4 separate regions of the Homo sapiens genome follow, and regions 1, 2 and 4 are each linked to region 3. The links come from fine-mapping of genetic effects on gene expression. A gene starts in region 3. Each other region holds a variant in brackets. All regions are shown on one strand. Distances are from middle to middle.

Evidence for each region. PIP is the estimated chance that this variant, and not a neighbour inherited with it, causes the effect.
Region 1: its variant is fine-mapped to the expression of MAN2A2 in whole blood (GTEx, PIP above 0.99).
Region 2: its variant is fine-mapped to the expression of MAN2A2 in whole blood (INTERVAL, PIP above 0.99).
Region 4: its variant is fine-mapped to the expression of MAN2A2 in whole blood (TOPMed, PIP above 0.99).

Annotation. Positions count from the first base shown.
Region 1 is chr15:90,936,921-90,943,485 of GRCh38, reverse strand. UNC45A (unc-45 myosin chaperone A) reads right to left here. Exons shown (of 20, transcript NM_018671.5): 5 at 3,663-3,755; 6 at 3,013-3,180; 7 at 881-1,049; 8 at 404-574. Among named protein-coding and RNA genes, the nearest start is that of UNC45A, 4.9 kb to the right of the region's middle. The variant C/G (reference allele first, on the strand shown) is at 2,855.
Region 2 is chr15:90,946,363-90,954,598 of GRCh38, reverse strand. UNC45A (unc-45 myosin chaperone A) reads right to left here. Exons shown (of 20, transcript NM_018671.5): 10 at 7,685-7,985; 11 at 6,709-6,803; 12 at 6,316-6,457; 13 at 5,805-5,945; 14 at 5,156-5,283; 15 at 4,879-4,945; 16 at 4,332-4,445; 17 at 3,984-4,099; 18 at 1,553-1,670; 19 at 1,289-1,444; 20 at 506-1,140. The coding sequence ends at 883. RCCD1-AS1 (RCCD1 and UNC45A antisense RNA 1) reads left to right here and starts at 106. Exons shown (of 2, transcript NR_170325.1): 1 at 106-264; 2 at 1,394-2,361. RefSeq lists enhancers at 1-33, 858-1,358. The variant AC/C (reference allele first, on the strand shown) is at 3,588.
Region 3 is chr15:90,899,038-90,907,273 of GRCh38, reverse strand. It overlaps MAN2A2 (mannosidase alpha class 2A member 2), which reads right to left and starts at 3,972. Exons shown (of 23, transcript NM_006122.4): 1 at 3,842-3,972; 2 at 2,935-3,084; 3 at 1,766-2,023; 4 at 1,551-1,695; 5 at 1,258-1,429; 6 at 777-904; 7 at 361-534. The coding sequence starts at 3,066. RefSeq lists enhancers at 2,982-3,041, 4,882-4,931 and silencers at 3,992-4,421, 4,442-4,711.
Region 4 is chr15:90,923,652-90,931,887 of GRCh38, reverse strand. HDDC3 (HD domain containing 3) reads left to right here. Exons shown (of 4, transcript NM_001286451.2): 3 at 1-184; 4 at 483-1,920. The coding sequence ends at 613. It also overlaps a transcript of UNC45A not described here. Among named protein-coding and RNA genes, the nearest start is that of HDDC3, 4.8 kb to the left of the region's middle. RefSeq lists enhancers at 1-171, 1,802-2,031. The variant T/C (reference allele first, on the strand shown) is at 3,620.

The DNA of each region.
Region 1 (6,565 bases), 37 kb before region 3:
TGCAGACACGTGGCTGGAGATAATCACAACTTTTCTTTCTTTTTTTTTTTTTTTTTTTTGAGACAGTCTCCCTCTGTTGCCCAGTCTGTAGTGCAGTGGTACAATCACAGCTCACTGAAGACTTGACTTCCCAGGGTTAAGTAATTCTCCCACCTCAGCCTCTGGAGTAGCTAGGACTGCCGATGCACACCACCATGCCCAGCTAATTTTTTTTAATTTTTCATAGAGACAGGGTCTCGCTATGTTGCCCAGGCTGATCTCAAACTCCCGGCTTCAAGTGACCCCCTGCCTCTCAAAGTGTGTCATCCACCATGCCTGGCCCCACTCACAACTTTTCTTATTACTCCTAAGAATAAACAAACTTCAGCTGCTGAAGCAAGTTTTTGTGAACTATATCACCTACCTTGGTCGATGACCCAGAGGGTGAGGCTGTTGTTGGGGTCCTTGAGAGACTTCCGGGGCACCGCTTTAATCAGGAGGGTCAGGGCATTGTCTCGGCCTTGGCCAGAGACCCCCACCTCTGTCAGCAGATCTAAGAGGTTACTGATGAGGACCTTCAGCTCCCGGGCAGGATCTGGCAACAACAAGAAGACATCAGTGGGCTCCACAGCAGCCCAGCCCAGTTTGACCCTTCAACTTCTCCAACAAACCAGGGAGACACAGGGAAGGGGGGATCCGCATCCCAGGCTCCAGACTGAGCTCCAGCTTTGTCCTGAGGCACCTTGGTTGCTGAGAATCTAGAGTAAAATAATGTCACCAAACCGTATTCCAAACAACCTGCAGCTGCAAGTCTGGTCCCCAAAAAACTGGCCTGGCTGGCTCAGCCCCATCCCTTCCATGACAGTAACGTCCAAAAGACCCCAGACCTGCTTCCACTCACCCACAATGATGGCACCTTCTTTGCCTCGGAAGCCTTTTTTGACACCTTCCTTGAGGGCATCAAACATAACCTGCAGCAGGTGGCAGGCAGCCAGGGACACAGCCTGGCTTTCCACGCCCAGGATGGAGACTACTCGCCGAGTTCCCAGTATGCTCAGGGTTGCCACTGTCTGGGGTGGGAGAGGTAAACAGAAGGAAGCTTCCAGTTGTTGAAGGGCAGCCACAGAGATCCCTAACTGTGAGTTAGAGGATACGGCCAGAAGGAGAGAATTGGGTGGAAGGCCCAGCTCCAGGTGAAAACAACACAGAATGGATGGCATGACCCAGGGTAATGGCAGGATAATTTTGTTAGAAAGATTTCCTAAAGGAGACATTACACGGCAATGCCCTACTACCTCTCCTTGGTGCCAGAGAAGACATAGTATACTGCAGCCCTGGGAGCAGCTGCCTTAGCTCATGCCTCCCCAAGAAAAAGACCTATACCTAGACGAAGCTACCTGACCACCAGGCTTAATGGTCTAGTTCTTCCCCAGTCTAAACCCTGAGGTTCTTTCCACACCCTGGGGATGTGGACGTCACGTACACGGAATGGGCCCGTGAGACCTCTCCACCCAGTTTCTTTCTTTTTTCTTTTTTTTTTTTTTTTTTGAGACGGAGTCTTGCTCTGTCGCCCAGGCTGGAGTGCAGTAGCGCGATCTGGGCTCACTGCAAGCTCCACCTCCCAGGTTCACGCCATTTCCCTGCCTCAGCCTCCTGAGTAACTGGGATTACAGGCGCCCGCCACCGCACCCGGCTAATTTTTTGTATTTTTAGTAGAGACGGGGTTTCACCGTGTTAGCCAGGATTGTCTCAATCTCCTGACCTCGTGATCTGCCCGCCTCGGCCTTCCAAAGTGCTGGGATTACAGGCATGAGCCACCGCGCCGGGCCCTCTCCACCCTGTTTCTAAGCTGGAGAACCCTAGAAGGCCTGCTTGGTCCACTGAGCCCAAATCCTGACTGCTTCCACTTAGCAGCTAAGTGTCCTTGGCCAAGACTGTGAACTGGAATGGACCGGAAGGCAGGAGGGAACAGAATGCACATGCTTTTAACAGTCTTAGCCTTGGGAGACCCAGAATGCAGCCCAAGCTTAGCCTAAAGAGATTTCATTGACTATTTCACAGTTTCACCCCTATCTAGGAATTGTGGGCTCCTCTAAAAGCAACCAAGGGCCTAGTCTTTGGTCCCCTCTCCCCTGGAGCAAGCCAGCTCAGGTAAGAGCTGGGGGCATGGACTTCACCACACTGGCCCAGGAGCAGGACTGTTATTGCTGCACTGTCCATGCTGGGCCACCACCATCCATGCTGAGAATCATGTCGGGATCAAGCCCTACGTGTCCGGTCACTGTCTCGATGGTAGATGCTGTGGTGGCCAGGCACATTCTGGGCCATGAGCTTGCTTGTGCCATATGGACATTGAAGGAGTCAGTGACCAATGTGTTTTTGTGAGTTGGCTGCAGGAAAGCTGGGGCTCACACTTGTAAGCCCCCTACAAAGCAAGTGCTTGGGGTACCCCAAGGCTGTTTTTGCTCTTTCTACCCCACTTCATCCTAATTTATGTTGGTCTTTTTCACGCCATTTTTATTTTTTCTCTCTTGTTACATGTATCTCCTTGTACTCTGCCTTTTCTTTTTTTGTTGTTTTGTTTTGTTTTGTTTCTGAGATAGTCTCGCTCTGTCACCCAGGCTGGAGTGCAGTGGCGCGATCTCAGCTCACCACAACCTCCACCTCCTGGGTTCAAGCAAGTCTCGTGCCTCAGCCTCCTGAGTAGCTGGGATTACAGGCGTGCACTACCATGCCCGGCTAATTTTTTTATTTTTAGTAGAGACAGGGTTTCGCCTTGTTGGCCAGGCTGGTCTTGAACTCCTGACCTCAAGTGATCCACCTGCCTCAGCCCCCCAAAGTGCTGGGATTACAGGTGTGAGGCACCATAACCTAC[C/G]TAAGTTCTTTTTAGAATAAGGTAAGGGGTAGAGGGTGGAAGAGTGGATGGATGGATGGACGGGCAGATGGGCGGATGGACAGATGGGTGGATGGAGGAATGGATGGACAGACAGACAAAGGGACTGAAGCTGTAACCAGCCTCTCCACTCCACCTACCCGTGACTGATGCTCAGAGCAAATGCCAACCAGCGTACGCAGAGCCGCCAGCATGAGGTCAGTCTCTCCCATGTCCAGTAAACGTTGCAAGAGCTGAACCCCATTACTCCGGAAGATCTTCTCCGCTCCAGCATCCTCCCTGGCCAGCACCACCAGGTTCTGAGAAGCCTGCGTCAAAGGAAGCACATTATAATGTTGACACTGCACACGGCATAGGATGCAGCACTGGTGAGCAGGGGCCCCGAGCCCTGGACCTCTCTGCTTCCACTTCACAGTTGAGTGACCACGGCCAAAAAATAACCTCTTTGAAGTTTAGCTTCCTCTGTAAATAGAGGGAAGAGCCTTCTCTCGGGATTGATGGTTAGAGCAAATGAGTCCCCAGCAGAGCCTGAGGGGCTGGGACAGTGCCTCAGTTACCTCTGTACACCCAGTTCCTGGCACAGGGCGTGGCCAACAAGGTACTCTGTGAACACTGGTTCTCTTTCCTTGGTTCACGCTAAAGCCCCAGACCCTCAGAGCTCCCATCCAGGCCCCGTGAGCCCAGCTGCACGATTGGAGGAGCGGCAGAGCAAGGCAGCAGTGGCTTCGGGGGCCTATGGATGGGTGGCTCTAGTGGGAGCTCACTCACTGACTCAGCCCAGGGCCTATACCTTTTGCTTTTTCTCAGTGCCCTTCTCTTCTGGGTCCAACAGTATCTGAAACATCTGTTCCACTTTGGCATCCGTCGAGGACATGTATCGCACCTAGACAAACCAACAAAGCATGGAACAAATCACGGCTCTTGGCCAGAGACATCACACTCCCTATTCATTTGTCTCCAGCTCCTCACTCTGGGAGGCACAGTAAAGATGTCCAGGCTCAGGGCTAGCACCTAGCTACCCTGGGCAGGAAGAGACTTGCCTGGCAGTGCCTCCTAAATTTCCCGCACCTGTTTTTCTTTCTGAGCTATTTCCTGCTTGGGCAGCAGGGGCTGCGCCGATGCTGGAGTGCCTTTTCGGAGGGGAGGTATCCTGTCAGCTACGAGGCAACCCACTCCCAGTGGTGCCATCTACATTGTGGCAGCGTGAATGGGCTTCCCATGGCACTGAACTCAGCATTTATACCTCCTGCCAGGGAGCTGGCAGATCGTGAGGTAGTTGCTAACACTTCCTTTAGCTCCAGAATTCTCTTTTCACTGTTTTAAAAATAATCTGAGCTGGGCGCAGTGGCTCCCGCCTGTAATCCCAAAACTTTAGGAGGCCAAGGCAGGTGGATCACCTGAGGTCAGGAGTTCAAGACTAGCCTGGCCAACAAGGTGAAACCCCATCTCTACTAAAAATACAAAAAATTAGCCGGGCGTGGTGGCAGATGCCGGTAATCCCAGCTACTCGGGAGGCTGAGGCAGGAGAATCACTTGAACCCAAGATGCGGAAGTTGCAGTGAGCCGAGATCACGCCACTGCACTCTAACCTGGGCAATAACTGTGAAACTCTGTCTCAAAAAAATAAATAAATAAAATCTGAAGCCAGGCACGGTGGCTCACGCCTGTAATCCCAACACTTTGGGAGGCCGAGGTGGGCAGATCACCTGAGGTCAGGAGTTTGAGACCAGCCTGGCCAACATGGTGAAACCCCGTCTCTACTAAAAATATAAAAATTAGCCAGGTGTGGTGGCGGGTGCCTGTAATCCCAGCTACTCGGGAGGCTGAAGCAGGAGAATCGCTTGAATCTGGGAGGTGGAGGTTGCAGTCAGCAGAGATCCACTGCACTCCAGCCTGGGTGACAGGATAAGACTGTCTCAAAACAAACAAATAAATAAATAAATAAATAATCTGAATGGGGAAGATCATCCTAGGCCTACTCCCCCACCCCCCAGAGTCCTGGGCATAGATGGTGGCACAAGCCTAGCATGTGGACCACCCGCCTTCCTCTCTTGCATCCATGGCAGCCATGACTAACCAGTCATGGCACGTTCCCCTGCTTGGCTCAGGCAATCTGCTTCCTAATTCTTCTCAACATAGGACTCTGGGCAGCCACTGCCAATCAGAGTTGGCATTGAGAGAGGAAACCTATTTGCTTTCCCAGGCTTCAACATTTCAGTGAGGTGTCTGCCATCATGTTATCTGCTTCCACTGTGTCAGCATTTTAACGTCAAATTATCTGGCGAATTTGAGCTTGGTTGTAGCTCATAATGGTCTTTAGATTCTTTTCTCCTAATTTAAAAATATACGTATTTTACACAATTTCTCTTTATTAAAAAAATATGAACAGGTGATGCAGTCTCCTTTGGAAAGCCCTCTCAATCCCATTCCTTTCCCCAGGGGTCACCGTGTTATCATTTTGATGTATATCTTTTAAAATATTTTCCTGAAAAAATAAAGAAACAAAAATGCATATTTGGCCCAGTGCCATGGCTCACGCCTGTTATCCCAGCCAGTTGGGAGGCTGAGGTGAGTAGATCCCTTGAGCCTAGGAGTTCAAGACCAGCCACCTGGGCAACACAGTAAAACCCTGTCTCTACAAAAAATATAAAAATTAGGCGAGCGTGGTGACATGCATTTGTCCCAGCTACTTGGGAGGCTGAAGTGGGAGGACTGCTTGAGCCCGGGAGGAAGAGGTTGTACTCCAGCATGGGTGACAGAGTGAGACCCCGTCTCAAAATACATAAATAAATAAAAATAAAAATAAATTTAAAAAATAAAATATTTTCGGCTGGGTGCAGTGGCTCACACATGTAATCCCAGCACTTTGGGAGGCCGAGGCAGGCAGATCACAAGGTCAGGAGCTCCAGACCATCCTGGCCAACACAGTGAAACCGCATCTCTACTAAAAATACAAAAAATTAGCCGGGCGTGGTGGCAGGCCCCTGTAGTCCCAGCTACCTGGGGGACTGAGGCAGGAGACTCACTTGAACCTGGGAGGCAGAGGTTGCAGTGAGCCAAGTTCGCACCACTGCACTCCAGTGTGGGCGACAGAGCAAGACTCCGTCTCAAAAAAAAAAAAAACAATTATTTTCCTTTGTATTTACATACCCAAGTGTACCCACAGAAAAAATATAGCATTGTTTTGCTATGTAGGGGATCATTAACATAAATGATATTATACTATATGTGTTATTGTATATTTTTCTTCTTCTTTTCTTTTTTGAAAGAGACAGGGCCTCACTCTGTCAGCCAGGCTGGAGTGCAGTGGCACGATCATAGCTCACTGTAACTGCAAAATCCAGGGCTCAAAGGACTCTCCTGCCTCAGCCTCACAGGTAGCTGGGACTACAAGGGTGTGCCACCACACCCAGCTAACTTTTTAGGTTTTGGTAGCAACAGGGTCTCACTATGTTGCCCAGGCTGGTCTCAAACTCCTGGCCTCCAGTGATCATCCCATCTTGGCCTCCAAAAGCACTGGGATTACAGGCATGAACCACCATGCCCTGCCTATTTTGCTTTGTTCATTCAACAAGTGTCCCAGAGCTTCCCATTTCAATATGTGTGTATCTACCTATTCTCAGTAACTATATAAGAGTCTGTAGTAAGGACATTACCCATTTATTCAGCCATTCCTCTATGGCTGGGCATTCA
Region 2 (8,236 bases), 47 kb before region 3:
ATAGGGTCTCGCTGTGTCGCCCAGGCGACACTTTGGGAGGCTGCGCTCTGGGCTCACTGCAACCTTCGCCTACCGAGTAGCTGGGATTACAGGTGCATGCCGCCACACTCTGCTCTTTTTTTTTTTTTTTTTTTTTTTTTGGTATTTTTATAGAGAAAGAGTTTTGCTTGTTGCCCAGGCTGGTCTCGAACCCCTGACTTCAAGTGATCCACCTGCCTCAGCCTCCCAAAGCGCTGGGATTACAAGCTTGAGGCACCGCACCTGGTGAGTTTCTTATTGATTAGCTTCCTAGGCTTACCCTTTGTCCCTCCAGTAGGATTAAGAAGCAACTCAGTGGGCCCTGGTTGGGGAATCCATTGGATTCCTTCCATGGAGGTGGGTCTGCCACTGTGAAGCTCCGTTGCACACTCACCCACGCCCAGCTCACACCCATACTCACCCACACTCACCCACTCAGAGACTCCCACTCACAGCAGCCCTCCCTGCCCAAGGACAGGGCACACAGTGGAGTTCTACACACTTTTATTGGAGGGGCAGGCCTGATAGCAGGCTCACAGCTGGTGAGGCTGCTGATGTGTGCGCCCTTCCAGATGCCCCAGGATCCACAGGCTGTGTTGGGATGCACCTTCCCCATTCCCAGCTGACTACAGTAGTACAGAAAAAGGGCCCCTCTGAGTGAGGCTGCAGGCAGTGCTGGCCAAGCAGGGCTGTGTGACTGAACGTGGCCGCTGACTCAGAACAGAGGACATCCTAGGGCAGCAAGCGAGGATGGGCAAGAGTATTGGGCATGCCAGCCACCACCAGCCAAAGCTGCTTCCGTCCTTACTCTCCGTGCCACAATAGGTAGCGTGTGCATGAGCCTTGGGCCCAGGGACAACCCCCTCACTCTCCATCTTGGTTGGGTTGGATAAGCCCATATTCCACTGCTTTGTCCAGGCAGGCTGCAGCAGCCCTTGTGACAGGGCTGTGGTCACCCTTAGCTAGCACTGACAAGATCTCCATCATCTCACTCTCCATCAGGGTGCTGGCAATCTCCCTCGAGGCCTCCACCATGTTCAGCACCACCACAGCACCCCGGTGCTGCAGCTCCTGGTTGGAGCTCAGAAGCAGGGCCTGCAGGATCTCCAGCCAGTGTGTGGTCTGTGAGAAAAACAGGGTAGATATGACCCCTGGGCAACAGGCTCAACCTTGGCAAGGGACACACCCACACACCCTAGGACTGCCCCCTTCAGCTGCTGCTGGGAGTTCCTGGTCCGTCCCTCCTCCCCCACTGAGAAGAGGCACTGACCACTTGGGGAATGCGGCTGCAGAGCGTGGGCCGCATGGAGGTAAGCATGGCCAAGCCCCCGGCAGCTGCCCGCTGTAGCAGCTCATCATCCTCTCCACTGTACAGCACCAGCAGCTTCAGTCGGTCATTGCCCTGGGCTTCGAAGAGGTCCTGCACCTGTGGCCAGATGTGAGGAGTGGACCAAGTCAGTTGGGTGTAAAGCCCAGCCAGGGCACAGGTACCTCTGCATCCCCGCCTGTCATGAGCACCCAGACCAACCCTCACCTCCTTGCTCATGGCCAAGTTACACATGCACTCCGTGGCTGCCCGGCGGATCATCTCATGCTCCTCAAACATGTAGCCTTCTATCATGGGCACAGCCTTCTCCTTCAGGATCTTCTGCCTGCAGGGCCACAGGAGGAAGCAGCAGGGATACGGTTTGGATGTTTTCCCTTCTAACCCTCATGTTGAACTATAATCCCCAATGTTGGAGGTAGGGCCTGGTGGGAGGTGACTGGGTCATGGGATGGGTCCCTCATGGCTTGGTGCTATCCTCGTGATAGTAAGTTCTCGTGAGATCTGGTTATTTAAAAGTGCGTGGCATCTCGGCCGGGCGTGGAGGCTCACGCCTGTAATCCCAGCACTCTGGAAGGCCGAGGCAGGCAGATGACTTGAGGTCAAGAGTTCGAGACCAGCCTGGCCAACATGGTGAAACCTTGTCTCTACTAAAAAGACAAAAAAAAATTAGCTGGGTATGCTGGTGCGCGCCTGTAGTCCCAGCTACTCAGGGAGGCTGAGGCAGGAGAAGCGATTGAACCCAGGAGGTGAAGGTTGCAGTGAGCCAAGATTGCGCCACTGCACTCCAGCCTGGGCAACAGAGGGAGACTCCATTTCAAAAAAAAAAAAAGTGTGTGGCACCTCCCCCGACTGTCTCTTGCTCCTACTTTCACCATGTGATGTGCCTGCTCCTGCTTTGCCTTCTACTATGAGTAAAAGCTCTCTGAGGCCTCCCCAGAAGCTGAGCAAATGCCAATGCCATGCTTACACAGCCTGTAGAGCCAGGAAGCAATTAAATCTCTTTTCTTTATAAATTACCCAGTCTCAGGTATTCCTTTACAGCAATGCAAGAACAGACTAACACCGGCAGCATCATCAGAGTTTCTACATCTGCTCCACCCCTGCACCCACACCCTCATGCAATCAAGTCCTGGGCTGAGGATTTCCCTTGGCAATGTCCAAGGACCCTCTTGCACCAGGTATGAACTACAGTGCTTCTTAGCCTTCTAACCAGGCCTAGGAAATAGCATAGGATTGTGGGAAATGCTCAAAATTAGGATGTAGAAGACCAGGGTGGTCGTGATGGTGAGGCTAACACCTAACATTTGAGGGTTTTTGTTTCTGTGTTTTTTTGAGGCAGGATCTCACTCTGTCACCTAGGCTGGAGTAAAGTGGCATGATCACAGCTCACTGCTGTAGCCTTGACCCCCCCAGGCTCAAGTGATCCTCCTGCCTCAGCCTCTCGAGTAGCTGGGACTACAGGTGCACGCCACCACACCTTGCAAATTTTTTTTCCAACTGTTAAGTTCAGGGGTACATGTGCAGGACGTGCAGGTTTGTTACACAGGTAACCATGTGCCGTTGTGGTTTACCGCACAGATCATCCCATCACCCAGGTATTAAGCCCAGCATGCATTAGCTATTCTTCCTGATATTCTCTTTAATTTCTTTTTTAAATAGGGACGAGGTATTGCTACACTGCTCAGGCTGGCCTGAACTTCTGGGCTCCAGTGATCCTCCTGCCTCATCCTCCCAAATTGCCAGGATTACAGGTGTGAGCCACCACGCCCGGCCTCATTTGAGTATTTACCCTGACCAGGCACCTGGATCATCTTACTTAATTCTCACCATGGCCCTATACTAAAGGTGCAAGTGTGATCATCATCACTACTGTTTTGCAGAATAGGAAACGGGCTAAGTAATGAGTAATATGTTCAAAGTCACAGTTAGTAATAAAACTAAAACATGCTGGCCAGCTGCAGTGGCTCACACCTGTAATCCCAGCACTTTGGGAGGCTGAGGTGGGCGGATCACGAGGTCAGGAGATCTAGACCAGCCTGACCAACATGGTAAAGCGCCATCTCTACAAAAATACAAAAATTAGCCAGGCGCGGTAGCACGTGCCTATAATCCCAGCTACTCAGGAGGCTGAGGCAGGAGAATCGCTTGAACCTGGGAGGCAGAGGTTGCGGTGAGCTGAGATCATGCCACTGCCCTCTAGGCTGGGTGACAGAGCAAGACTCCGTCTCAAAGAAAAAAAAAA[AC/C]TAAAATATACTGATATGGCACAATGCTAGGGGCCAGGTACCCATGTAGTAAGTACTTTTAGGTGTATTTTCTCATTTTATTCTCCTCATCACTATGCCATGAGGTAGGTACTATAATCATCCCATTTCACAGAGGGAGAAACTGAGACAGAGCAGTTAAGTAACTTGCTTGAGGTTGCCCATTTGCAATCAGGGAAGCGAGGCAGTCTGACTCTAGAGTCTGCCGTGCCGTGCTGCCTCTTGGCCTGTCGCCTCCTCTCTAATGATGCGGAGCAGTCACTGTGAGGCTCACAGAAGCCCATGACCAAGGAGTGTTTCCCAATGTGTAAACTGCTGTGGGGGATATTCCGAATCCCGATGCCTGGTCCAGGCCCCGCAATCCCAAGGGACCTTACCGGAGCCTCTCGCTGATCCCAGCCAGGTTTGTTAGGGCCATGAGCGCCTCGAAGTTCTGCAGGCCTGAGCAGTTGAGGTGCAACAGGGAGACGAGGGGCCGGACCACCTCATAGATCTGCAATGTGCACCCCACCTGTCAGGGGTACTTGCCGCAGCCCCCACAAGCCCCACCAACCCTGCAGGGAGAAGCCCACCCCCAAGAGAGTACTGCTGTCTCAGGCTGTCCTCCCTGCCCCAGGCCTTGACAAAGCTGAAACTTCCTGCTGGTCCCAAAGGGGAGCTACAGCCCAGCCCACAGGCCATCAGGGACAGAGGGAGTGGAAAGGCCGGGGCAGGAAGACACGTACCCGCTCGCCAGGGAAGGTCATCTCCGGGTTGGAGGTGATGGTGAGCTTGGCAAGGGCCTGGGCTGCCTTTGTCTGCCCCACGTCCGTGCCTTCCAGGGCCAGCGGGATCAGCGCCTGTAGGAACAAGCCCGTCACTGCTCAGGACATCCCTGGGAGTAAGACCCCGACCATCGGGCTCCCCAGCCCTGACCGTGCCACCCTCACCTTCCTCCCTCTCCCCAGGCTTGACTCCCTGTGCAGACCCTCTGCATCCAAACACTTCCTGAAACACCTAATAAGGGCTGGACATGGATTGTGCTGAGCACCAGGGCCATGGGGGTAAATGAGACAAAGGAACAGTAGAGCCTAGGACCTTCACAGGCACCAGTGTGGAGGGGCCAAGGAGCTTGCCTGCTTCCGCGTCACTCTCTCAGCGGGACGGTGTTCCTCTGGCCATTAATGTTTTTCTGTTCCATATCTAACACCCAGCTCTGGCGTGGCAGCTGCTGAGTCATGTTTTATAGGCTGATGGCTCAGCCATCAGGAAGGGGTGTGTAAACCAGCTTACCCTGCCGCCTCCCTGGGCAACCACAGTGCCTCGGTCCTCTACCTCTTCCACTAAAGCCAAGAAGACCCTGTGGGGAGAAGGCGGTGGTGGGCAGGCAGCTCTGGGACTCTGGCAGGCAGACGCTGCACTCCTAGGCTCAGCAAAGACGGCAGCCACGCAGGCAGCCCCCGTCGCTCTAAGAGGCCCACAGCACTGGAACCTGCACCCTCTGGAGCCACATCTGCAGCCCTGAGGCTCAGGAGTTGGGAAAGGTTGGCTCCTACCAAGGCTGGCTCACCTGGAGAGCAGCTCTCTGCAGGAACTGGTCAGCACAGGGCTCTCCGTCTTCACCATGCACACCATGGCCGACACCACACCCGCTGCCAGCAGCTTCTTCACCCGAGCCCGCACGAAGCTTGGCTTGTCCTGGGGGAGGAGGCAGCTTAGGAGAGGGGCCTAGGCTGACTCACAGAGAAAGGGGGACCCTTCTCACAGCAGTAATTGAGGAACTGGGAAATAAAACAGCCAGACAAAAGGAAACAAACTGGCTTAAAAGGGAGGCTGTTGGCTGGGCACGGTGGCTCACACCTGTAATCCCAGCACTTTGGGAGGCTGAGGCAGGCGGATCACGAGGTCAGGAGATCGAGATCATCCTGGCTAACACGGTGAAACACTGTCTCCACTAAAAATACAAAAAATTAGCCAGGCATGGTGGCGGGCACCTGTAGTCCCAGCTACTCGGGAGGCTGAGGCAGGAGAATGGCATGAACCCGGGAGGCGGAGCTTGCAGTGAGCCGAGATCGCATCACTGCACTCCAGCCTGGGAGACAGTGAGACTCCATCTCAAAAAAAAAAAAAAAAAAAAAGGGAGGTTGTTCTGCTGTGGATGCCCTGGGTTAGCTGTCCCCATGGTGGGGAACCCTCTAGCCCCTCTGGCGGCCCCTCACCTTGGGGTGCTGCTCGGGCACATGCTGCTTGGCATACTTGGCCAGCTCCACCATCTTGGGGTCGGGCTCCTCGTAGTCATAGCTGTTGGTGCAGTTCACCAGCGCTGAGGCCACCGCAAAGAGCACTGACCTCTCCTCCAACTGCCAGGACACAGAGGAATTCACATGGGCATCCCGGGGCAGAGCAGTACTCAGATAAATGCTGCCCAGGCCCAGGCCCCCAATTCCACCCTCAGCTGGGACCCTTGGGTACAGGATGAATTCGGGAAACTCCCAGGCCCCAGACTTTGGGAGCTTACAAACTTGACCTCCCCAGCTCCTCCAAGAAGAACGTCCTTGCTAACACCACTGGTGCTGGCCAACATGCCCACACTACACAGAGCAGCCACTCAGCCACCAGCCCTCTTCCCTGGGGTCAAAAGACCCCATTGGCCAAGCCCTGCCGAGAAAGCCTGGTAAGGTCTAATCCTAGACAGTGTCCCCAGGCTGACGGCAGGAACCACAGAGCTACCCTGCTGAGCTGGAACAGAGCTTTCAGAGCAGCCGCATCCTCCACAAACTCTTCCTTCACGTCGGCATCAAAGGTCAGGTAAGCCAGGCCCTCCACTGCCCAGCGCCGAGTGCCTGCGTCGATCTGGTCATTGCACAGCCACCTGGGGACACGCAGGATAGTGGACGACCCTCAGGATTGGGGGTACGGAGGGGTACACCAAGGCCAAGGGGGAAAAACCAAGGGTTTGGGCATCCCCTCAATGTACAGAAGCAGTTCACGTACCAGGATCCAGACTGCAGCCCCTGCCTGAGCCAGAGAGCAGGACGGAGGAGGCCCCAACCCCCACCCAGACCCCTGTGTCTTGAGATCTACCCCACAGGTGGGGAACCACAGCAAGGCCAGATGACTCACTTTCGACACTGCTTAGCCAGTTTGAGAGTGGAGCCTTCAGCAAACTGCTTCATGCTGAAGTCAGTCCCTCCAGCCGAACCGAGCTTACAGAGTCCCTGGAGGAAGAGGGCAAGACCAGTTGGCCTCTGGGGAAGGAGGCAGGAGCTGAGCTCCTCCACACCTGGCTTGGACTCCCTCCCTGGCACTCTGCCATGGCCCCCTGGAAGCTACACAGACAAATCAGCACCCTCTCCCTCCAGACCACCACCTAGAGCATGTGGCAAGAAAATCAGCTACTGGGGTGGCCGCATGACACAGCATCTGCAGACACTGATGCGCTGGCCGCTGGACAGTCGTGGGCCCCACCCCTTCCCAGGCCACACTGAGAATGGCTCTGTTTCCTTCCATGTCGCACAAAGAAGCCCTCTGCAGGTGGAGTTGAGAGGCATGTGGGGAGAGGACAGGTGCTTCAGCCACAGCCAAATCCTTATGGGATGGAGAAATCCAGGACTGAGTGCCCCAGGGAGGAAGACCAGCTTCCACAGGGTGCACAGCCACAACAGGCTCATGGAGGGCCAGGTAGTCCCCAAACCCCCAAACCACCAGCTCCCAGGAACACTGCATGACCCCTGCAGGCCCAGTCTTAAGCCCCATGGAGGGAGGAGCCATGCCGATGTCTCTCACCACAAGAAAGCCCAGAATCTCGTTCATTCATCCATTTATTTTAGAGAGGGTCTTGCTGTGTTGCCCAGGCAGGAGTGCAGTGACATGCGTGACTCACCACAGCCTCAACCTCCTGAGCTCAAGTGATCCTCCTGCCTCAGCCTCCCAAGTAGCTGGACCTATAGGCATGCACCACCAAGCCTAGCTAATTTTTTTGGCATTACAGTATTCCTTATTTTCATCTGGAGTGTGCTGGGGCCACACCCTGCAACACCGGCTGGACCAGGACCCCTGCCTGGCTGCCTGCCCACCCACCCCAGGCCCACCGTCTCACCACTAGCGCCCGGATGCGGATGCTGTCCTTCTCGCTGCACTTATATAGGTCCTTCAGCAGCGAGACACCATTGGCAGTGATGAATGAGGCCCGCTTAGCCTTGCCGGCTGCATGGATCAGAGCCTCCACGGCCACCAGCTGCTCCTCCTCCTGCTCAGAGGCACACAGAGCAATCACACTCTCCATGACACCGCTCAGCTCCAAGGCCCGGTTGCCAGCGTCACATGGGCCCTGCAGGAGGCAGGACACCGTCTGGATGGCCCGTAGCTTCCCGGCCAGCCCTTGGCCCTCAAACCAGCTCCTGAGGGGCACAGGGTGACAGCCGTCACACCAAGGCCAACATAAAGGGACTCTTCTTCCCTCCCTTCCCCTCCACTGGCCAGGCACCTGCACTACTTGGGCAGAAACAGCAGGAAAGCTGCCAATGGGAGGACTAGGACGTTTCCACCTGGACAATAATGGCTGATTTTCTTTATCGACTTTCACTCAAGCCTTCCCTGACATAGTATCTAATACAGGTTACTCCCATACCACCAGTGATGTCCCTTCCTG
Region 3 (8,236 bases):
GCAGCCTCTGGACGCCAGGGGGGCAAGGATCTGTTCAGGCTAAAGGCAGCCCTGATAGACCGCGAGGCTGTAACTGGACCTAGGGCTGGAGAGAGTGTGTAGGCCAGGGAGAAAGACATGAGGGGCTCCCTCAGGGGACGGGCACACAGGGCACGCTGAAGCCCTTGGGACAGCAGGCCCTGTAGAGGCCAGAGGTCAATATGGCCCTCCCCTAACCAGAGGGTGCGACCATTTCTGGCAGTCCACACCAGTGCCTGCAGGTCTGCTCTGAAGAACAGTGGGGGTCTTAGTTCTGATATCCCTGCTGTTCCCCAGTGAAGACTATGCTGCAGTAACCCCCTCTACCCTACCCGGCCTTACCCCATGTCTGCCTCCACATGAACTCTAGGCTGTGGGTGGCAGCAAAGTGCTTCTTGATGGCATAGTGCACTCTCTGAATCAGCATGCTGGTGAGGTTGGCACGGCGCAGCAGGTAAGGCATGGTGGAGCTGTATCCAAAGGGGTCCACTGCCCAGCCAGAGCGGGGGGTTGCACCTGGGCAGGGCATGGAAGCCAGAGAGGCCCTGAACACACCTCAGGGGCTGGCCCCCCGGCCTTCCAGGTGCTGGGACCCCAGCTCTTGTCCTGGTAGTGAGTGGAGAGATGATATCACACCAGGCCCACATGGTGGGATCTGCCTAGAAAGGAACCACCCCCTGCCGATCCCTGTGCCTTACAGCCCCTGCCTGTGCCTTACAGCCCAGGGGGCAGACCCCCATGCCTGGGCCTGGACTTACCAAGATTTCTCTCCAGCCACTGGTGTCCTTCGATGAGCTGGTCAATCAATGCAAAGTAGTGGGAATTGGCCTCATCTGGCATCACCCAGCCTCCTGTCGCAATCTCCAGCTGCCCGTTTCCCACCAGCCTATAGTTAAGGACTCACACTCAGGACGGAGCAGGACACTCTGCCCAGTCCTGCCAACCAGCAAATGTCAGGGCCTGTGTGCACTGGCCTCACTGGACCAGTTCTCCCAATCCCAGGACCAAGAGAACACACACTTGCCCTCCTTTCCTTACAGCCAACCTCCAGGCTATCCTGGCCCCGCTTATCTCGGAACCTATCTGTTTTTGCCTTCCCTCCCTCCACCATCACTCATCTCTTCCACAGCTCTCTGGGCCTCTCCCTGCCACCTTGGCACCCATAGCTTAAGGTAAGACCCGTCCACCCAGCCTGGGGCTCAGACAATGCCCTCCCATGCCTCCCCGCCTGGTACTGGCCTTCGGACTGCCGCTCTCTTTTGGACATTGATGTTGTCCCACCACTTGGCGAAGAAGGAGACCTCTGCCCAGAGGAAGCGCCGCCGGGGGTCCTCCTGCAGCTTAGACACCATGCTATTGAGGATGTGTTGGGTCTGCTCTGTGTAGTACTTGTCAAAGGTCTTGATCCAGCCTAGGGAGCCAATGTAGGGTCCCCTGAGGATGCCACCATCTTCTTCGACGTCCCTCCCTTGTATTGGCCATCAGAAATCCCACTCCACACTCCAGCTCCCAGGAGTCTGCAGGGCCCTCACCTGGGTCATTGTGAGAGTGGGGCACCACAAACACCTGCAGGTCTTCAGCATCCCAGTCGTGCGGGTCGTAGGAGATGTCGAAGCCTTGCCTCCACACACCACCATCCACGTTGTCAAACGGCAGCTCCTCCGACACAGTGAGCATCTGCCAGGTGAACTGCAGCTCAGTACCCCAGTCGTGGCCACTGTACGTCCCTGCCAGCTCTGACTCTTACCTGCAGCTCTGGCTTCTGACCCCGGCCCCCCAAAGCAAACTGGCAGTCCTGCGGGGAGATGGAGAAGAAGCTGGGCCGGGGCTCCGGTGGCACCACCCAGGAGCCATTGACCGTGTAGTAGGGCAGCATGGCGGGCGGGCCCTCTGCGTTGGCTGTCAGCTCCAGCACGGAGTCCTTGATATGGCTGATAATCTCATGGTTCTCCTCCAAAAGCTGCTCCAGCTGCTCAATGCGGTTCTGCAGCACAGAAATTTGGCTCTGCCAAAAAACCAGAAAGCAATCACACACAGCTCCTTATGCCACAGGGAGGGTCTCTGCTTGGGGTCTACCAGCTGAGGCCTGAGTACAATTCTTCCCTCATCAGTCAAAGCCAGACCATGAGCCTAGAGGGATAGATGACACCGTTCAGATAAAGGGAGCTGTGCAGATCACCACTGAGGACTACACTCCACTTGGGTTGGGAGAACCATCACTCTCTAGCTCAGGGATGGCAAAGATTTCCTTTCACCTACCTATTCTCAACAATCGGTGTTGCCTGTGCTGAGGATTTCAGCGGGGCTTAATGGCAAAGAATGCTGCAATCAATTAGCAATGTCTGCCAAGAATTCAGGAGGGGCTGGGCGCGGTGGCCCACACCTGTAATCCCAGCACTTTGGGAGGCCAAGGTGGGTGGATCACCTGAGGTCAGGAGTTCAAGACCAGCCTGGCCAACATGGCGATACCTCGTCTCGTCTCTACTAAAAATACAAAAATTAGTCGGGCATGGTGGCAGGCTCCTGTAGTCCCAGCTACTTGGGAGGCTGAGGCAGGAGAATTGCTTGAACCTGGGAGGCGGAGGTTGCAGTGAGCCAAGATCGCGCCACTGCACTCAAGGCTGGGCGACAGAGCGAGACTCTGTCTCAAAAAAAAAAAAAAGAAAGAAAAGAATTCAGGAGAACAGAGTGACAATACTCATTGCCATTGACATTTTTTCTTCCTTCCTTCTTTTCGCCATCACTGTTTTTAGCTGAGGGTTTCTACAAAACCTGACTATTGGGAAGGAAGGCTCCTGTCCTGTACTGACATTACCCTCCAGCGGGGGGTGGGAGGGGAGGCGGCGGGGTGGGAGGTGCATACCCTGAGCCCAGGTGACTTGTATACAAAGAAATTAGCAACCAGGCACGACTCACCCGGGGGAAGTTCCCACCATTCTGGTGTCGGGTGGGATCGTGTTGCACTCGGTCCAGCATGAGGTAGAGCGAGAAGACTGCCACACAGAAGATGGCAGCCCCACACACTGTCACCTGCTTTTTCAGCTTCATACTGGCCTCCACACACACCTGGCAGGAAGGACACCATCTGTAGCTCCAACATGCAAAATGCCCGTGGCAGTCTTTCCACCAAATACCCCAGTGAGTTCCTGAGGGCTGTTCCAAAGGAACACCCATTTGCCTGGCTCCAAGTAGCACAAGCAGCACATCTGAGGCTGGCCCACCTGGTCCTGGTAGCAGCTCTGCCGCTAGGGTGGAGAGGACGCTCTCCTTTGGCTGGTGCTATGAAAAACGGGCCCAGGATAAGAGTCCCAGCTCCGACTGGAGCGCACCACACAAGCTCCTGATTACACAGCTTCCCTGCCTAGATAGGAGGTGCCTGTTCAGGCTCCTCGGCCATGTGCTTCTAGTTTCAGGTGAATAAGCTAGTCTCTATTTTGTTTGATTTAAAAGTTTAGCCAGAACCCAAAGAGACTGATAGGAAAGCCTTTCTCAGTGCCCTTTCGGGTCAAACTGGCACTCACCAGAAACAGTGCCTGGCACGATCCTTTCTCAGAAACACAGAATGAGTTTCTTTCTAATAAAGAAGAAAGATGCTTGTGTTTCTAGCATAAAGCAAGCCCTGTGTGTTCTCCCTGTTTCTCTACTGTTCACTGCAGTGGGAAACTTCCAGCCGCGGTTTGCAGAGCACTTAGGGGACCCCTAGGAAGCCTGCAGTGACGCCGAAGGCCCCCTGGGAAGGGAGAGACGGGGCCCAGTGCTCAGCTGCGAGGCAACTTCAGGGGACCCGTGCCCCCCGCCGCCACCGCCCTCGGGCTCCGCTTGCCTGCTCAGGAGGAAGGAGGACGCTAACTGCGGAGCCGAGCGTGGGCGGGACCGCGCTCCGGAGTCTGCTCCGCGGGCCCTGGGGCCGAGGAGCTTTGTCGCCTCTGCGTTGTGCCCTACTTAGCGCGATCTGATTCTGCTCGGGAGCTTCCGGGCAATATTTTCAGCCCTTAGAGACTGGGTCTAGGCCAATGTGGGTGGAGCTGGGGAGAGAGTTGGATCACAGAGGGCAGGCACCTGCCGCCAGGTCTCTGGCCGCCCGCCCGGCTCCCTCCCCACCCGCTCCGACTTCGTCGGCCCCGGGGACCGCAGAGACAGGCGCCAGGTACGGGCCTCAGGCAGCCTCCTGTCCCTTCCTGGCCCCTCTGACGCCGCAGTGGCGCTCGCACTCCCGCCGCCCGAGCCCGGCCTCTGTCGGGGCAGCCGGAGCCCTCCCGCGCGCGCACCCGGCCCGTTACCGTCAGCGCCCGGCCTCCGCGCCGCTCCGGGCCCAGTCGGCCGAGCTGCCGGCTCTCACACGCCCGGGGACGGCGGCCCGCGTGCAGGCAGCGACGCAGGCGAAGGCGGGCGCCCGCCCACCCGTAGCCCCCTGCTCCGCGCGCCGCTGCCGCGCTCCCGCTGGGCCCCGGGCCGCCGGCGCGCTCCGCTGCGCCGGCCCCGCGCGGGTCCGCCAGCCTCTGAAGCTGCCGGGCCCAGCAGCGTGCGGGGCGGGGACAGCCGCGCCGCCCGCCCCGGCCTGCGTGTGCCCGGCGGAGCTGACAGGAGCTCTGGCCGCCGCGGTCCCCGCCCGGCTCCTCCCGGGCCCGCTCCGCTGGGCTGCAGTGCGCAGCCGCACCAGCCCGGGCCGGGCCTGGCCAGCTGCGGAACCTCAGGAGGGACGCGCGACTGAATTTTTTCGGAATCCTACTTGAGTAAGCGCATGATCGGGCAGTGGTCGAAACGCCCGCCTCCGTCTCGGCAGACGCGTAGCGGGGTGCGTTCTCCGCGGCCTCACCCGGCTCCGGCCCAGGTAGCCTTAGGTCTCTGTCGTTGCGCCCCTCGGGCAAAGGGGTGCTGCCTCCTGTCGGTACAGCGCATTCCTCGAGTCCCTTTCCTTTCCGTGCCTGCTCTATGTTTCCTGCCAGCGAGTGAACAAGACACAGACTTTTCTTGGCTGTTTCCCTTTTACTGGGCATCTAGGTTGTTTACAGTTTTTCAGTGTAATCCATACTGCAATGAACATCTCCATGAATTCCACATTTTTGTTCTTTTTAAGTTATATATAACATTATCTGAATGTGACCCCCCAAATTCATGTTCAAATCCTAATCCCTCAAGGTGATGATGGTATTAGGAGATGGGCCTTTGGGGGTGAACAGAGTTTGAAGGGAGAGCTCTCATGAATGGGATTAGTGCCGGTATCAAATGACCCCGAGAGTCGGCCCCTTCAACCACGTGAGAACACAGCTAGAAGGCACTATCTGTGCACCACAGGCAGGCCCTCACCCGACACTGAATCCGCTTATGCCTTATCATGGACTTTCCAGCCTCCAGAACTGTGAGAAAATACATTTCTGTTGTTGATAAACTACCTACTTTATGGTATTTTGTCCTAACAGCCCGAACAGATTAAGACGTTATTTTATGATGAATTTGCAACAGTGAAGTTACCCGGGCAAAAGATAAGGACAGAGATGACTGATGACACTATCGCTCCCCCAAAAGACTGTACCAGTTTACACCATCAATAACAAACTGCTGGATATTGCTTAAACAATGTTTTAGCTGATTAATGAGATATATAATGCCATCTCATTTTTAAAAATTTTCCTTTAAGTTCTGGGATACATGTGCAGAACATGCAGATTTGTTACATAGGTATACATGTGCCATGGTGGTTTGCTGCACCCATCAACCCATCATCTAGGTTTTAAGCCCCACATACATTAGGTGCTCTCCCTCACCTTGCCCCCAACCCCCGACAGGCCCCGGTGTGTGATGTTCCCCTCTCTGTGTCCATGTGTTTTCATTGTTAACTCCCACTTATTAGTGAGAACATGCGGTGTTTGGTTTTCTGTTCCTGTGTTAGTTTGCTGAGAATGATCAATGCTATCTCTTATTTAACGACCATTTCTTTTTTTTGAGACAATATCTCACTGTTTCCCAGGCTGGAGTGCAGTGGCACCATCTCAGCTCACTGCATCTTTGACCTTCCAGACTCAAGCCATCCTCCCACTTCAGCCTCCTGAGTAGCTGAGCCTTACAGGTATGTGCCACTACACCCAGCTAATTTTTTTATTTTTTAATTTTTTTATTTTTATTTTTTGAGACGGAGTTTCGTTCTTGTTGCCCAGGCTGGAGTGCAATGGCGCGATCTTGGCTCACTGCAACCTCCGCCTCCCAGGTTCAAGCGATTCTCCTGCCTCAGCCTCCCAAATAGCTGGGACTACAGGCACGTGCCACCATACCTGGCTAATTTTGTGTTTTTAGTAGAGATGGGGTTTTACCATGTTGTCCAGGCTGGTCTCGAACTCCTGACCTCAGGTGATCCACCTGCCTCAGCCTCCCAAAGTGCTGGGATTACAGGCGTGAGTCACTGTGCCCGGCCCTAATTTTTTTATTTTTTGTGGTGGGTGGGAGGGTCTCACTGTGTTGCCCAGGCTGTTCTCCAACTCCTGGGCTCAAGCGATCCCCCCACTTTGGCCTTCCAAAGTTCCAGGATTACAGATATGAGCCATAGTGCCCAGCTCTTTTTATTTTTTTATTGTTTTTGACAAGCTCTTGTCTGTCACCCAGGCTGGAGTGCAGTGGTGTGATCATGGTTCACTGCAGCCTCGAACTCCTGGCCTTGATCCTCCTGCCTCAGCTTCCCAAAGTGCTGTGATTACAGGGATAAGCCACTGCACTCGACTGCCACTTCTTTTATCACCATCAGGAACAGCTTTCCAGGTTTGTTTACTCACTGGAATGCCTGTTATTAGGGTGTTAGACCTAGACTGGGCTCATCATCCTCTTTGTCTTTTCATATTTTGCCTTGTGTTCTGGGAGATTTATTTTCCAGCCCTTCTATTGAATTTTCCATTTTGGTAATTTTTTTTTTTTTTTTTTTTTTTTTGAGACAAAGTCTCACTCTGTCGCTCAGGCTGAAGAGTGGTGGCGTGATCTCAGCTCACTGCAACCTCTGCTTCCCAGGTTCAAGTGATTCTTGTGCTTCAGCCTCCCGAGTAGCTGGGATTAGAAGCGCGCACCACCATGCCCAGCTAATTTTTGTATTTTTAGTAGAGATGGGGTTTCACCATGTTGGCCAGGCTGGTCTTGAACTCCTGACCTCAGGTGATTTGCCCACCTCGGCCTCCCAAAGTGTTGGGATTACAGGCGTGAGCCACCGTGCTCAGCCTCATTTTGGTGATAATCTTCTTTTTTCCTTCGTTTTGAGAGGGAGTTCTGCTCTTGTTGCCCAGGCTGGAGTGCAATGGCGTGATCTCCACTCACCACAACCTCTGCCTCTGGATTCGAGTGATTCTCTTGCCTCAGCCTCCTGAGTAGCTGGGATTACAGGCATCTGCCACCACGCCTGGCTAATTTGGTATTTTTAGTAGGGATAGGGTTTCTCCATGTTGGTTGGACTCGTCTCGAACTCCCAACCTCAGGTGATCTGCCCACCTCAGCCTCCCAAAGTGCTGGGATTACAGGCATGAGCCACCGCGCCCAGCCTGATAATCTCAATTTTCAAGAATTCTTGTTTGTTGTCTGGTGGTTCTTTTTTAAAAATTTAGGTACAGTTTACACTGTGTGGCACAAATCTTAAGTGTACAGCTTGATGGGTTTTGATAAATACATACACAAGCATAATCACCACCCAGATCAAAATGCAGGACATTCCCATCTACCCAAAATGTTCCCGTGTTAAGTGGCCAAGCAGTCCCTAAGCACACCATAGTGGCTGTCAGACTGTGGTCCAGCCTTGCCTATGTGGCCCATGTAGAGACACACATGGTTGTAAGGGCACCATGGTGAACCTTTTCCCCTCCATCTTCACACGCCTTTCCATCAGGACCCTCCAGACATAAGCACTGCTTTGACTTCTCTGTAACTTAGTTTTGCCTGTTCTTGAACTTCATAAAATAGAATCATAAGTATGAACTCTTTTCATGTCTGGCTTCTTTACTCAGTATGACTTTTTTTTTTTTTTTTTGAGACAGTCTTGCTGTCACCCAAGCTGGAGTGCAGTGGTGCGATCTCAGTTTACTGCAACCTCCGCCTCCTGGGTTCAAGTGATTCTCATGCCTTGGCCTCCTGAGTAGCTGGGACTACAGGCATGTGCCACCACACCCATCTAATTTTTGTATTTTTAGTAGAGACGGGGTTTCACCATGTTGGCCAGGCTGGTCAACTCTTGGCATCAAGTGATTTGCCC
Region 4 (8,236 bases), 25 kb before region 3:
CTACACTTTGGGGCACAAGTGCGGCGCCTGGTGGAGGAGGTAACAGATGACAAGACTCTGCCCAAGCTGGAGAGAAAGAGGCTGCAGGTGGAGCAAGCGCCCCACAGTAGCCCCGGGGCCAAACTGGTGAAGCTGGCAGACAAGCTGTACAATCTGAGGGACCTGAATCGCTGCACCCCAGAGGGTACGCTTTCGTATGGGCTGTAAGGGAAAAGGGAGGGGGATGCCGCCTTCTGAAGACACATGTTGGTCAGTTCCCCTGAAAAACCCTGGGCATTCTTAATTCCCAAATTAATCCTACTGGACCACTCTTTGATCTTCTTTCATACAGTAAAAATACAATAGCTGGGCCAAGGGGAAGTTTTCAGGACAGCTCATTCCATCAGGAACTCATGGCCTTGAACCAAGCTTGCCAGGAAGTGGGGAAAAGGCAGTGCTTTCCTTGACATCACGCTAGCAAGTTTCTGTCGACTCTTATGCAGGATGGTCAGAACATCGAGTCCAGGAATACTTCGAGTGGGCAGCGCAGGTGGTGAAGGGGCTTCAGGGAACAAACCGGCAACTGGAAGAGGCTCTAAAGCATCTGTTCAAGCAGCGGGGGCTGACAATCTGATCAGTGCTTGAAGCTATCCAGAGGCACAACTCCAGCCTCGTTCAGGCCGGACAGGATTCATACGCCATCTTTTCTGTGTCTCCTGAGCTCCCTCCATCCTTCCCAGATATTAGAGGCCAAAAAAAGACTTGCATTTTTTCTCAGTCTGAAGGTCTCCTGCTAACTAAGCTGAGCCCCGCGTGGTGGGAATCAGATGTACCCATCCATTTCTGATGCACTCACCGCCTCTCCCCAAGTCTTGGGTCTGTTTGCTATTTTGCATGGTGGGATCTCTGGCCCCTCAGGGACTTGAGATTATTTAAGTACTAGTTCCTAACACGTTCTGGAAAATAAAAATAACTCTGGGTTAAGGTTTAAGCTGCTGCTGCTCCTTCTCCAGCCTCCGACTGGTGGGCTGCATATCTTTCCTTCAGCAAAGCAGGACTAATTGTGTGTCCCGGAGTCACCTCCCTCAGGTTGCGGGCCTCAACCCCTCCGAACCTGGCTTCCTTGTCAGTGACATGGGTTGTGTAATTATCAGGTTAGACTGTGACGTGCCTGATGGAGCCTGACACATAGGTGCTCAAGAAATGGTAGCAGCCTTTCCCGTTAAGAAAGTTGGAAGGGGGCCAGGCGCGGTGTCTCTCGCCTGTAATCCCAGCACTCTGGGAGACCGAGGCGGGCGGATCACTTGAGGTCAGGAGTTCAAGACCAGCCTGGCCAGCATGGCGAGGCCCCGTCTCTACTAAAAATACAAAAAAAAATTAGCCGGGCGCAGTGGCTCGCGCCTGTAATCCCAGCTACTCAGGAGGCTGAGGCAGGAGACTCGCTTGAACCCGGGAGGCGGAGTTTGTACTGAGCCGAGATCGCGCCACTGCACTCCAGCTTGGGTGACACAGCGAGACTCCGTCTCAAAAATGAAAAAAGAAAAGACGTATCGGAAGGGAGTGCCGCCCGCTTACTGACAACCACTGCTGGGCACCGGAGAGACCCCAGCAGCAACATGATTGGGCCGGTGGGGGATTCCGGTTCCCCAGTACCTCAAGCCGCGCGGGAAACTCGGTGACTCGCAATCCCCTCGCCCTTCCGCATTGCGGGTTACTTCGGTTGTTAAGTGACAGGGACTTCCGGGAAGGCCCGGAAGTGGCCCGGGGCTGTCCGACCCCGGGAGCCCGGCGGTCGGCGTAGGGGAGGCGGTGGAACTTTGCTCGGTGGCCATGGGGAGGGATTGCCCGGTGGTGGTTTTTCAGTCGTTGCTGAGCAGCTGAGGTTTATTTTTATGTATTTTATTCTGCATCCAGTCATCCATTAAAGCCAAAGTTTATTAAGTTGTCTGGAAAAGCGATCATCTTGGGTACGAGGAAATTGTTAGGTCAAAGCTGTTCGACTACGATAGTTGTTTGCCCAAGTGAAGGCCCCAGCGGAGGGCTCTGCGAAAAAGTAGGTGAAAGGCAACCAAAAAAGCCGAATTAAAAGAAAACAAATGAACAAAGTTCAGAGTAATCCCCAGGGTATGGTACATTTTGGAGAACTTTGAACTTAATTTTTTTAAATAGTTTTGCGGGAGTAAGATAACGAGATTTTTTTAAGAAAAGATGACTTTGTTGTAGTCCACTTTATATATTTTGTTGCCTGTGTTTTTAGTGTCATATCTAAGAAATCGTTGCCAAATCTAATGCCATGAAGCTTTTCCTGTTTTCTTCTAGGAGCTTTCGTTTTAGCTTTTTTTTTTGAGACGGAGTTTCACTCTTGTTGCCCAGGCTGGAGTGCAATGGTGCCATCTCTGCTCACCATAACCTCCGCTTCCCGGGTTCAAGCTATTCTCCTGCCTCAGTCTCCCGAGTAGCTGGGATAACAGGCGTGCGCCACCACGCATGGCTAATTGTTGTATTTTTAGTAGTGACGGGATTTATCCTTGCTGCCCAGGCTGGTCTTTAACTCCTGACTTCAGGTGATCCACCCGCCTTGGCCTCCCAAAGTTATCGTTTTAGCTCTTACAAGTAAAGTTTTTGATCCATTTTGGGTTAAATTTCTTTTTAAATCAATTTAATTTGGTATAAGGTATACATGATGTTATGAGGCTACATACAGGTAGTAAAAAGGTTACTATAGTGAAGCAAATTAACACATCCATCATTTCACGTAGTTACCCAATTTTTTGTTGTTTTTGTGGCAAGAACATTTTGGGTTAATTTTTGTATATGGTGTAATTTTTTTGTATATACACCATATACAAAATATATGATGTATGGTTTTGCTTGTGGATGTCCAGTTTTCCTAGCACCATTTGATGCAAGGTCTGTCCTCTTAGTACCTGTTTTTGGATTTTTTTATTTTTTATTTTTTAGTAGAGATGGCGTTCCACTAAGTTGGCCACACTGGTCTCGAACTCCTGACCTCAGGTGATCTGCCCACCTCAGCCTCCCAAAGTGCTGGGATTACAGGCGTGAGCCACTGTGCCCAGCCTTGAATAACTCTTCACAATATTGCTTTCTAGAATTTTAGTTCCTGCCTCTTTTTAAACTATAAACTAGTATTACATTTATAGCCAGTATTTAGGTGTACCCTCCCTCTCATTAGTTTATGCCCCTAGACAAATTCTCTTTTTGCTTAAGTACACCTACTTTCTTCCACTAAAGTTTTGTACATTGCAAACTGTTGAGTCTTTGCATGTCTGAAAATGTCTTCATTTCCCCCGTGCTCTTGAATGGTGTAGCTGATAGCAAATTCAAGGCTGAGTTTTCTCTAGGTTTGAATGGACTCCAGGTGTCTACTGTAGCTAACTAGATGTCTGCTATCACTGTGATTGTCTTTCCTTTGTAAGACTTTTCTATTTTTTTTTTTTTGAACAGCATCTCCAATTTGCATTCATAAAATTATTAATCCAAATTGCGAAAGTAGACTTTTACAGAGTCACAGGTCAGTAACAAAACAGGAAATGAAATGTTCCAGAGCCTTTTTTTTTTTTTAAGATGGATTCTCGCTCTGTCACCCAGGCTGGAGTACAGTGGCGCAATCTCGGCTCAC[T/C]GCAACCTCTGCCTCCTGGGTTCAAGCGATTCTTATGCCACAGCCTCCCTAGTAGCTGGGATTACAGATGTGTGCCACCACGCCCGGCTAATTTTTGTATTTCTAGTAGAGACAGGGTTTCACCATGCTGGCCAGGCTGGTCTCAAACTCCTGACCTCAAGTTATCCGCCTGCCTTGGCCTCCCAAAGTGCTGGGATTACAGGCATGAAGCCATCGTGCCCGGCCTCCAGAGACATTTTGATAAGTTCCAAAGAAACACACTAGGCAGGCTGGGTGCAGAGGCTCACGCCTGTAATCCCAGCAATTTGGGAGGCCCAGGCGGGTGGATCACGAAGTCAGGAGATCGAGACCATCCTGGCTAACATGGTGAAACCCCGTCTCTACTAAAAATACAAAAAAATTAGCCGGGCATGGTGGCGGGCACCTGTAGTCCCAGCTACTCGGGAGGCTGAGGCAGGAGAATCACTTGAACCCAGGAGGCGGAGGTTGCAGTGAGCCAAGGTCATGCCACTGCACTCCAGCCTGGGAGACAGAGCAAGACTCCGTCTCAAAAAAAAAAAAAAAAAAAAAGGCCAGTGTGGTGGCTCACGCCTGTAATCCCAACACTTTGGGAGGCCGAGGCGGGTGGATCATGAGGTCAGGAGATCAAGACCATCCTGGCTAACACGGTGAAACCCTGTCTCTACTAAAACTACAAAAAATTAGCCAGGCGTGGTGGCGGGCGCCTTTAGTCCCAGCTACTTGGGAGGCTGAGGCAGGAGAATCACTTGAACCTGGGAGGCAGAGGTTGCAGTGAGCCGAGATCACGCCACTGCACTCCAGCTTGGGCGACAGAGCTAGACTCCGTCTCAAAAAAAAAAAAAAAAAAAAAAAAGCTAGGCTAAAAATCTACAGTTAAACCATGGTTGTACAACAGGTTATATTCATTCCTGCAGTTTCTCAATAAGTTCTTATATTTGCCTTTCTCTTTTGAGAGTGAATCCCACTCACTCTATTGCCAAGGCTGGAGTGCAGTGGCATGATCTCAGCTAACTGCAACCTCCACCTCCCTGGTTTAAGCTATTCTTCTGCCTCAGCCTCCTGAGTAGCTTTGACTACAGGCGCATGCCACCAGCCCAGCTAATTTTTGTATTTTTAGTACAGACAGGGTTTTGCCATGTGGGCCAGGCCGATCTCAAACTCCTGACCTCAGGTGATCCACCCACCTTGGCCTCCCAAAGTGCTGGAATTACAGGCGTGAGCCACCGTGCCTGGCCTTTAGGTTTTATCTTACGTAATTTGCAATATATCTACACGAGGTTTTTTAAATTGTTTTAATTTTTTTGAGACGGAGTCGTGCTCTGTCGCTCAGGATGAAGTGCAGTGGCATGATCTTGGCTATTTGCAACCTCCATCTCCCAGGTTCAAGCGATTCTTCTGCCTCAGCCTTCCAAGTAGCTGGGATTACAGGCTATAGGCACACACCAGCATGCCCCGCTACATTTTGATTTTTCTGGTTTTTGGGTTTTTTTGTATTTTTAGTAGAGACAGGGTTTCACCACGTTGGCCAGGCTAGTCTCAAACTCCTGACCTCAAGTGATCTGCCCACGTTGGCCTCCCAAAGTACTGGGATTATAGACATGAGCCACTGCACCTGGCCTGTTTATTTATTTATTTGTTTGTTTGTTGTTGTTGTTGTTGTTTTGAGACGGAGTCTCACTCTGTCGCCCAGGCTGGAGTGCAGTGGCGCGATCTCGGCTCACTAAAACCTCTGCCTCCGGGTTCATGCCATTCTCCTGCCTCAGCCTCCCAAGTAGCTGAGACTACAGGCGCCCGCCACCATGCCCGGCTAATTTTTTGTACTTTTAGTAGAGACAAGGTTTCACCATGTTAGCCAGGATGGTCTCGATCTCCTGACCCCATGATCCGCCCGCCTCGGCCTCCCAAAGTGCTGGGATTACAGGGGTGAGCCACCGCGCCCAGCTATCTATTTTTTTTGAGATGGAGTCTTGCTCTGTCACCCAGGCTGGAGTGCAGTGGTGCGATCTCGGCTCACTGCAACCTCTGCCTCCTGGGTTCTCGCCATTCTCCTGCCTCAGCCTCCTGAGTAGCTGGGACTACAGGCGCCTGCCACCTGGCCCAGCTAATTTTTTTGTATTTTTTTAGTAGTGACGGGATCTCACCATGTTAGCCAGGATGGTCTCGATCTCCTGACCTCATGTTCCACCCGCCTCGGCCTCCCAAAGTGCTGGGATTACAGGCATGAGCCACCGCACCCGGCCTGGCCTTTTTTTTTAAATGTACCTTTCTTGGAACTTAATGAGCTCTTTGATTCTGAGATCTCACATCTTTCTTCAGTTCTGAAAAATTCACCGTCTTTGTTTTCTCATCCCTGTATTCTCACTAGTCTTTTTTTCTAAAACTGCTATGAAACATTATGCCAAAGCTTCTCAGTCTATCCTCCATCTGTCTTAGCTTCTTTTTTATATTTCTTTTATCACTGTGGTGCATTCTGGGTGATTCCTCAGTTGTTTTCCAGACCTGCTAAATTTTTATGTCATCTGCCTCCAGTCTAGGGCTTATACCATACATAGAGTATATTTCAATAATTGTATTTTTACATTTCCAGCATGTATAATTTGTAAAATCTTATTTGCTTCTTTTCAGTCAGTTTCTCATTGCAAGACTGAATATCTTTAGCTCTTTGGTGATTGCACATATATATTTTTTAAAGTATTTTTTTAGATTGCTTGCATGTCATCCTGTTTTTGTTTGCAACTTACATTTTTCCTGCCTGTGTACCTCTCAGAGTCTGGTTCTGGTCCCTTGACGTTCCTAGGTTACACTTGGTTACCTGTCCCACGTGGACTTTGAAGTCCCAGCACCTACCATCCTGAACTAGTCTCTACTTCTCTCAAGCTGTATAGCCTCAGCCTCTGCTAATGGCTGTATTATTCTCTCCATTCTTTGTCAAAGAAGATTTCCTTTATTTTGAGTTTGACAGTTTTTGCTTTCTTTTTTTTTTTTTTTTTTTTTTTTTTGAGATGGAGTCTTGCTCTGTTGCCCAGGCTGGAGTGCAATGGCAAGATCTCAGCTCACTGCAACCTCTGCCTCCTGGGTTCAAGTGATTCTCGTGCCTCAGCCTCCCAAGTAGCTGGGATTACAGGCGCCCACCACCACACCCGGCTAATTTTTGTATTTTTTAGTAGAGATGGGGTTTCGCCATGGTGGTCTGGCTGGTCTGGAACTCCTGACCTCAGGTGATCTGCCTGCCTCGGCCTCCCAAAGTGCTGGGCTGTGCCCGGCCTGTTTTTACATTTTTAGTATTTATTTAGCAATCTCTGGCATTAGGAGTTGAGAGGGCAGAATTATAGGTGTGCTTGCGCCTCTAGTTGGAATGCAAGTCTCTAGGTATGTTAGTCTGTGCTGTTATGACAAAAATACCTGAGACTGGGTAATTTATAAAGAACAGAAATTCGTTTTCTCACAGTTCTAGAAGCAGGAAGTCCAAGATGAAGGTGCTGGCAGGTTCGGTGTCTAGCGAGGGCTGCTTTTTGCTTCCAAGGTGGTCACTGCATCCTCACACAGTAAAAAAGGCAGGCTGTGTGAAGCCTCTTTCATTAGGGCCTTAATCCTATTCACGAGGGAGAAGCTCTCATGACCTAATCACCTTCTAAAGGCCCCACCTCTTAATATGCTGCATTGGAGGTTAAGTTTCAGTATGAATTTGAGAGGGACACAAATATTCAAACTTGCGGGAGGCATGCTGACTGGGAAACCCCAGTCCTTCCTACTCCACTGAGGGGCCTTCTCTAGGTCTCCACACTCAATGCTGTGTCTCAAATCTTCAACTCTGTCACATTCAGAATGACAGAGTCCGCATCTCCAACCCCACTTTGGTTTCCTGTGCCCAGACTACCTAACTACATGGATTTTTAGTTCAGGTTTATTCTCAACTAGGGAGGTCCAAAGTCAGGAGCCAGAATGTCAGGAGTCAGGAGCCAACTGCAGACCCAGCTGGTCCTGGGTACTGTTACCATCTGAATTGATTTCTCACTGACCCTAAGTAAAATTGAGGGTTGTTGCGAAGGATCTGGTCTCTGTCTTATCTCTTCTCACTATGAGAATGAGAATGAGAATGAGCCCTTGAAGTGTTTGTCCTTCACACACTTTTTTGTTAGGGAAGAACAAAGATTTTGTTCAGAGATCTCTATTGTGGATGGTAAGCCTCATTCCCACCATCCTAGACTGATTTTCCCCCTCCGTGAGTGCACAGATGCCCCAGTGACAGAGCAAGGTAAGCAAGTCAGGTTCAGGTCAAATTAAAGATGCTGCTCTCTCTGCACAAGTGGTCGAGGTTTTATGTTTTACCTACCCTGAGGCAAGCCATATGAGGACACTGTCTGGGCTGGCTCGCCCTGCATGGGAGGACCAGCTCTTAAGTGGTTCAACTGGAGCCTTTCTCTCTGTGGTTCCAACTGGCCATACAGCCCTTCCTTCTTCATGAAAGCTGGATGGTTCCAAGTAAATGTAGGAATAGAATCCGATCCGTCTCCAGTGGTTGAAATGGCTTCTGTCATGTCCTGGTTCATTTTGATGGTAACCCTCAGAACTGTGAGGCTGGCCGGGCGCAGTGGC